3 separate regions of the Homo sapiens genome follow, and all the other regions are linked to region 3. The links come from fine-mapping of genetic effects on gene expression. A gene starts in region 3. Each other region holds a variant in brackets. All regions are shown on one strand. Distances are from middle to middle.

Region 1 (2,760 bases), 180 kb after region 3:
AAACAAAAAAAGTTCTGGCATTAGGGTCTCAACAGACTAGACTAAAAATCAAAATGGAGTCACTCATGCTAAAGTTCTACATCATCAGACTGATAACCTTTCACAAAATCAGAAGAGAGATACACACCCTGATTTCCCAAGCAGACCGTTTTAATCAACATAATGAAGTTCCCTTTGCTTTAATCCTTACAACAAAAAGTAACCTGAAGTAACCCGATGCGACCAATCAGTTATTTCTCTCTTGTTCTGTTTCCCTGTTCCTGCCTTACAAGGAAAGTAACTTTGAAATGACCAATCTGCTTTTTGTTCTTTGTTTCTGCTTTTTTCAGCCCTTTTCTGTCTATAAAACCAACCTCCTCTGCTCAGCTCATTGGGACACTTGTGCTATTTTGAGGAATGAAGTCTTGCCCGATTCTAGAATCATGAATGAAGCCAATTAAGATGTTTAAGTTTGTTGTAATTTTGTCTTTTGACATTTACGGTCACCTGGGAAGTGTGTTGAATAATGCAGGTTCCTGGACCCATCGCCAAATGATTCAGATATCTTTGGTCTAGGGATGAGACCCGGAATCTGCATTTTCACCAACAACTCCAGCTGATTCTCGTACCTATGATCCTTAAAGCACCCATGAGCAGGTTGGTCAGGTTGCCTTCCTGCAGGCTCCAGTTTAAACCATCCCCCTCTGGGCCTGGCATGTCATGTGGACGTTGTGAATTCCAGGAGGTTTGAAAACCTGGAAGAGAGAATTGTCTTCATTCCGTGTTGCCCAGAGACACTGCCTGGTATTATCAGCTGAACTCCAGCTCATTCCTTGAGTGCTTGTGGCAGGCACTATGCCTGGAATTCTAAGTACACATTCCCATTCAATCTCCACAACAACCCTTCAATACAGGTGCTATTATTCCCATTTTATAAACGAGAAAACTGACTGGCTGTGGTGGCTCACGCCTGTAATCCCACCACTTTGGGAGGCCGTGGTGGGTGCATCACTTGAGGTCAGGAATTCGAGACCAGCCTGACAAGCATGGTGAAACCTCAACTCTACTAAAAATACAAAAATTAGCAGGGTGTGGTGGTGCATGCCTGTAATCCCAGCTACTCGG[C/G]AGGCTGAGGCACAAGAATCACTTCAACCTGGGAGGCAGAGGCTGCAGTGAGCTGAGATTGCACCACTGCACTCCAGCCTGGGCAACAGAGCAAGATCCTGTCTCAAAAAAAAAAAAAAAAATTAGCCGGCTGTGGTGGCGTGCACCTGTAGTCCCAGGTACTCAGGAGGCTGAGATGGGAGAATCACTTGAGCCTGGGAGATTGAGGCTGCAGTGAGCCATGATCATGTCACTGCACTCCAGCCTGGACGATAGAGTGAGACACTGTCTCAAAAAAAATAAATAAATAAAAATAGGCCAGGCCTGGTGGCTCACACCTGTAATCCTAGCACTTTGGGAGGCTGAGGCAGGTGGATCACCTAAGGTCAGGAGTTCAAGACCAGCCTGGCCAACATGGTGAAAGCCTGTCTCTACTAAAAACACAGAAAATAGATGGGTGTGGTGGTGCACACCTGTAATCCCAGCTAATTGGGAGGCTGAGGAAGGAGAATGGCTTGAACCTGGGAAGTGGAGGTTGCAGTGAGCCGAGATTGAACCACTGCACTCCAGCCTGTGCGACGGGAGAAAGATGCCATCTCAAAAAATAAATAAATAAATACAATAAATTAAATTAAAATAAAAATAAAAAATTAGATGAGGGGGGGACCGGGTGCGGTGACTCATGCCTGTAATCGCAGCACTTTGGGAGGCTAAGGCGGGTGATCGCCTGAGGTCAGGAGTTCGACACCAGCCTGATCAATATGGTGAAACCCCATCTCTACTAAAAATACAAAAAAATTAGCCAGCCATGGTGGCGTGTGATTGTAGACCCAGCTACTCGGGAGGCTGAGACAGGAGAATTGCTTGAACCTGGGAGGCAGAGGTTGCAGTGAGCCAAGATCACACCACTGCACTCGGGCCTGGGTGACAGAGCAAGACTCTGTCTTAAAAAAAAAAAATGGATGAGGAAACTGAAGCACAGAGAGACAAAATTACTTGTCCAGAGTAGCATTGCACATTGGTATGGAAACCTGCATTCTAGCCTGGTTTCCAGAGCCTGCTTTGGAGCCAGGCTTCGTGGGTCCAGGTTCCAGCTGAATAAATACTAGTGGTGCAAACTTGGGCAAATTTTCATTAGTCTCTGCTCTCCTTTGTAAAACAGAGATAATAAAAGTGCCCACCTCATAGGGCTGATGTGAAGGTTGGATGAGTACATATCATGCTCTTAGTATACTGAGTGGCTCAATAAATATTAACTGTCATTACTACATATCTTTAAATAATAGCAAATAAAGGAGATAAATGAAATGTTATTGAATACATGCAATTAGCTTGATCAGCAGTGTCTTTAGAAAGTGAGCATTCCATAGGGGAAAAATTAACAAAAATGCCCATTCCAGTGAAAACTGTGGGAGCTGCCACACTTGGAAGCTACCTAATTGAAGTCTTAGTTCCTTTAAGTGACTGTCCAGACTCCTGTGCTCCTCCCGCCCTTAAACCCTTATACTTTTTGGGTTCTGGTTTGTCTGGAACTCACAATCCTGAGAGCATCCTGGAACAAAAACAGGGCTGGTTCATTCCTGTCCCTGTATGTCAAGCTAAGTAAGTAAATAAATGCCCATCCCAAGCCCAAGTGGCCCTCACGCCTGCAGGGGGTGCTGCCCAGTGACTGGAGTA
Region 2 (2,760 bases), 70 kb after region 3:
TCACACCTGTAATCCTAGTACTTTGGGAGGCTGAGGCAGGTGGATCATTTGAGGTCAGGAGTTCGAGACCAGCCTGGACAACATGGTGAAACCCTGTCTCTACTAAAAATACAAAAATTATCCAGGTATGGTGGTGCATGCCTGTAATCTCAGCTACTTGGGAGGCTGAGGCAGGAGAATCGCTTGAACCCAGGAGGTGGAGGTTGCAGTGAGCCGAGATTGCACCATTGCACTCCAGGCTGGGTGACAGTGAGACTCCATCTCAAAAAAAAAAAAAAAAAGAGAACTGATGCCAAAGTTAGATCTAAGAGTCATTTCCACCATGTCTCTTTTGTGAGAATGTTGTCATTAAGTGATGCCTGGTGCCAGGGCGCCTGGCTGATGGCTTTAGAGGGCTAAGAGCAGAATTCAACACATCTGTTGGTGAGCAAAGGCTGCATCAGCCAGCCTCATGGATAAGTTATGGGATCCTGAGAAGAGGCTTAGATGCCAGGGAAACCAGCTCTGTGCTGTGATGAGGGTGCCCTGGCCTCGTACTCCTATAATCAGTCTTGAGATGCTGCTACATCTCTAAATGTTGAGGGACCCAGCCATCACCACTGAAAGGCAGTTTTTAGGATCATCCAGTCCACACTCCCAACTCCAGCTGGCTTAAGCTAAAAAAGAGAGCCAGTTGGCTCATGTAACTGCAAAGTCCACGGGCAGGTTCAGCTTTAGACATAGCTAGATCCAGGAACTCACTGTCATGGAGATTTGGTCTGACTCTGTTTGTTCCTCTCTGTGTTGGCCCCAGTTTCCCTACATGGTGGCAAAAGGAGGAGGCTGGAAGTCCCAGGTATATGTTCCCCAGGTTAGCAATGCCAGGGGAAAAAACACTTCTCCCTTCTGTGAATTCTGAACTCCTGGCTGGCTACTGGCCAGGCTTGATCCCCATACTTCTTGGCCCAGGGGAGCAGAATATGTTGACTAACGCAGGCCTGGAATGTGGATTTGCCAAACAATCCCGTGTGCATGTGTGCATGTGCAAATGTGTGTGTGCATGTTGATTAGTCAGGCTACCTTTCCCCCAAACCACAAGTATAAAAAGCAGAGCTGGGGAGGTGCCCCAGAGGAAAATTGAGGTGCTACTACTAGAGGGAGGGGATGGATGCTGGGCAGGTAAAGCCAACAGATGCTGCCCCAAGGGTAAAGCACAGGACT[A/C]TGACTTGGCCTCCCACACGGCATTGCCTGCACAGGCAGAGCATGGTGATCAGAGAGCATTGGCATTTGGGCTACTTGACTGTATTTCTTCCTGTAAGTTCATTTCTGATACCAGATTTTTATTACTGTTCTTTTTTTTTTTTTTGTCAAGCTGTTCTATATTTCCGGGAGAGGGCAGGGGAGGGGGCTCAGTCTTTCCTGGCAGTGGCTTTCCTCATGGCGGCCAGGACATTGGCTCGGCTCCTCCTGCTTCCTCTTGGCGTGGATGTGTGTCCCCACCCTTTCCTTGATGAACTTGAGGGCCTGTTTGTCCTTGGAGACCTTCAGTAACTCCATAGCATGCTGCTTGTACAGGGCAAAGCCACACACCTCCCGGATCATGTCCCGCACAAACTCAGTGTATTTGGTCAGACACCCACTGCAGCGGCTGTGCCTGGGCTTGCTCACGTTCTTGGTCACCTTGTGGCCCTTGTTGAGGCCCATGGCCATAGGGTAGCGCAGAGCCATGGCTGCTGCTCTCCAGTGGCAGCCATGGTGGAAAAGCTTTATTACTCTTCTTTTAATCCTCAAATCTAGGCTCCTTATTTTTATTTATTTATTTATTTATTTATTTATTTATTTATTTATTTATTTATTTTTAAGACTGAGTCTCACTCTGTCACCCAGGTTGGAGTGCAGTGATGCAATCTCGGCTCACTGAAACCTCCACCTCCCGGGTTCAAGCGATTCTTGTGCCTCAGCCTCCGGAGTAAGTGGGATTACAGGCACGTACCACCACATCCGGCTAATTTTTGTATTTTTAGTAGAGACAGGGTTTCGCCATGTTGGCCAGACTGGTCTTGAACCCCTGATCTCAGGTGATCCACCCACCTCAGCTTCCCGAAGTGCTGGGATTACAAGTGTGAGCCACCGCACCTGGCCCAGGATCCTAATTTTACAGATGAGAAAGCAGAGACCCAGAGAGGCTCCATAACTTTCTGGAAACCACACTGCTTGGTGGTGATGGGGGTGGGACTGAGCCGGGTCTCCTGACTCCCTGTGGCTCTGGTCACTATTTCCAAAGTGCCTGCCCCTGGGGAGGGCTTTGTCAGGGCCCTTCTCTGACTTCTCTTGCCCTCCAACCCTTCTCACAGAAAGTCCATCAACAGGAACTCCGTGAGATCGCGAATGCCTGCAAAATCCTCCAAGATGTACGGCACGCTGCGGAAGGGGTCGGTCTGTGCAGACCCGAAGCCCCAGCAGGTGAAGAAGATCTTCGAAGCATTGAAAAGAGGCCTCAAGTAAGGCTGGGCTGTGTGCTGCCTTTAAGAAGTGCATTCCTCTACCTCGCCTCCTCTCTGTCTCTTCCTGGGGAAGCGTGGATGGGTCTTGTCTACAAGAGGTGACAGGTTAAGTTCCTGGTCATTCGTTTAGTAAGCAAGTATGTCAGGGTGCAGCCGCGTGCTCAGCCCGGTCCTTGGGCACTGGAAACCTGGCAGTGACTAAGGCAGGAGGACTCTGATCTTGTGGAGCACGCACTGCAGAGGGGCAGATTCAATGCAATCAATCAAGAAGCAATGC
Region 3 (2,760 bases):
GAGCATTTCAGTTATTTCCCATCATTTCCTATGATAAGCAGCTCTCAGCAAGCATCTCTGTGCCTGTCTCCTGTGCACAGGCATAAGTAGTAGGAGACCCTCATCTCTGGTTTTCAGAGGTCTTTGCCAAATTACCCTTCAGAGTCTGTGTGTGTGCTTTAATGGGGAGGGGTGTCCGTTCCTGTTCTTTGGTGCTGTTTATTTCTGGTTTCTTTTCCACACTAGCTGCAGAGTGGAAAGGAGCCAAGGCGAGGGAGAGAAATCTGTCTCTAGGTGTTCCAAGGCCCTGGATGTGCCACAGGGCTGGCCTCCCCTCCGGAGGCGGTAAATGGCTGCTTTGTTCTTGGGTCCGTCCCTGAGCAGAATCAGGACGCAGAGATGTGTCAAGTGGACAAAAGAAATTGTGCACATCACCAAGCCTGGATCCCACCCCTTGACCTGGAGAAACTGTTAACTTTGTAGGAGTCGCACACACACCAGTGTGACTGGGCAAGGGGCGAGCGCCCACCCCGAACCCTGAAATAATTAAGTTATACAAAAGAAAAAAAAACATAACAAAAGAGCCTGACCCTCACTAATGGATGTAAAGGAAAGAACCAAGCTGACTCTCAATCTAGGAGAAGTGGGAGGCGCAAAGGGGGAAAGGGGCTTGGGGGAAACCCAGGACGGAAGGAAGGGGTGTGCAATGGATCAGATCTGGACTGAAGAGGCGGACAGATGGGAAAGGGGAAAGAAAGGAGGGAAAGGAGAAAGAGTGAGGAAGGGGCTGGAGGAAAGTGACAAGGTAAGAAGAGGAAGGAGAGGGCTGGAGGAGGGAGGGGGTGGCCAAGAGCAGTTTAGGAGGGGTAGGCTGCGTCCCAGTCTGTTTGTGATTAGCACGCAGCCTGGTGCAGAATGGAGTAAACAGAAACTTCCAGGCGTCCCCTCCGCCCCTCTCTGAGGCAAAGCAGAAATCAGATGCTCTGTGATTAATCGTGGAGGATTCAGGACACGACCACAAACGCTGTGCGGACTTGAAATTAGCTGCCTTTTCCCAGTCCCCTTGCCAAAATGGGAGTGGGGGGTGGGACGTGAAGGGGTGGGGGCCCCGCCTGCTGGGGGCCAGCATGGAATTCCCCCCGGCAGAGCTGGGAGTGACACTGACAAGCAATCGGCCGCGTCCAGAGCAGCAGGCGGCATCCGGGGGGAGCGGGGCCGGCTGGGGGGCCCCAGGAGGGCTTCCTGGAACCCCAGCTCCATGGCCGCCTGCACCCTGACACAGGCCAGATAAGAGTCCCGGCTGCATTATCAGAGCCCGGCAGGGCACCGGCCTCCCTGCACCAGAAGGAAGACTCGGGGCGCAGCAGGTCCTCAAGGCGATCTTCCCAGAGAGCGGGACCAGCGGCTGGTGGCCAGTGTGGATGGAATTTGCAGAGCCCTAGCTCGAGTCCGGGAGTCCCGGGCCAGATGGGAGCAGACGCTTGCTGGCGGCAATAGGGAAAGTGAGGCAGCTGCAAGGAGGGCGGCGGGACTGCACTCGAGTGTCCAGACCTGCTCGATGGTGAGTGTGAAGTGACTGCTCCCCATGTGTGCCGTGACGCCGCCTTGTGTGGACAGACTTCTGGAGCTGGGGGTGACAGGAGGAGGCAGCCGTTCCTCACAGGCCACCTGGAGCTCCCAAGGCCGGAGGAGGGAACCTGGGTTGAGGCTGAGATGGGATGGCGGTATCGTGCTGTGTGGCCTTAGGCAAGTTATTTGCCCTCTGCAGGCCTCCATTTGTCCGTTTCTAAAACAGTGGTTGAACTAGGTGATCTTTAAGAGATTCTCATGATGACAGCTATTCCTTGTGTATCTGCTATACGCCAGGCACTGTGTAGGCATTTTTGAAGCGTCGGCTCGGGAAATCCCGGTAAGCCCCCTGCAGGGTAAGTATTATTGGTGTCCTCATTGTACCCTGAGGAAACAGCAGCTGGGCGAAGTGAAGTGACTTGCTGAGGTCACACAGCCGGTCAGTGGCAGAAACGAAAAAAGACCTAGGTTTTTCTGACTTGCTTTGGCTAAACTCTCCTGTACACCCCCAGTATTCTGTATTCTGTGCTCCATGGTTCTGCAATTATCCCAAGCAGCAGGGGTGAAGGAGAAGGAGGTATGGATGGAGCATTACCTGCAGGAAGGAGGCAGAGGTGGGACAGAAGGAGTGACAGGCTGACACTGGCAAGCAGCCTTTTACTCTCTAAAGGATGTGTCAGCCCAGGGTGGAGGCTGGCTGCCCTGGGATGGGGCAGGGGCTCCAGGCTTGAACGAAGAGTGCCCAGTGCAATTTCCTAGATTTGCTGCCTTGTCGTAGGAGGCTCCTGGGGGCATGAGAGAAGAGGGTTAATATGTCAGAGGTGGAGAGAGCTGGGGGCAGGGAGACTGGCATATGCCTCAACTAGGTTTTGTTCCAATTTTATTTTGCCTTTGCAGAAAATCTGTTTCGAATCACTCTGGGCCCGTGCAGTGTTTTTGGATGAAACAGAATTGTGAAACGCATACAGCGCTTTCCACATGCCTCCCCTGGGGGGAATCACATATTAATATTATCGTAAGCTATTTGCATATATATCCCTGCAGCTGTGGCTGGCAGCAGCCAAGAGATAAGAGACAGATAAAGTCAGCTCGTGTCTCCCTGGCACGGAAAGGGAGGGTGCAGGTTACACTCAAGGGCCAGGAAACACACAGCAGGTGGGGAATCCCTGGGGTTCCAGGCATCGGGCCAGAGTGAAAGGTCCCAGCACCCAG

Evidence for each region.
Region 1: its variant is fine-mapped to the expression of RIPOR3 in monocytes after Pam3CSK4 (Quach 2016, PIP 0.95). The same link has a PIP of 0.9 or more in monocytes after LPS.
Region 2: its variant is fine-mapped to the expression of RIPOR3 in lung (TOPMed, PIP above 0.99).

Annotation. Positions count from the first base shown.
Region 1 is chr20:50,506,369-50,509,128 of GRCh38, reverse strand. No RefSeq gene overlaps it. Among named protein-coding and RNA genes, the nearest start is that of PTPN1, 2.6 kb to the left of the region's middle. The variant C/G (reference allele first, on the strand shown) is at 1,105.
Region 2 is chr20:50,619,706-50,622,465 of GRCh38, reverse strand. It overlaps RIPOR3 (RIPOR family member 3), which reads left to right. Exons shown (of 22, transcript NM_001290268.2): 3 at 2,334-2,480. It also overlaps the pseudogene RPL36P2. Among named protein-coding and RNA genes, the nearest start is that of MIR1302-5, 6.3 kb to the right of the region's middle. The variant A/C (reference allele first, on the strand shown) is at 1,201.
Region 3 is chr20:50,689,906-50,692,665 of GRCh38, reverse strand. It overlaps RIPOR3 (RIPOR family member 3), which reads left to right and starts at 1,124. Exons shown (of 22, transcript NM_001290268.2): 1 at 1,124-1,540. The coding sequence starts at 1,538. RefSeq lists an enhancer at 41-2,760.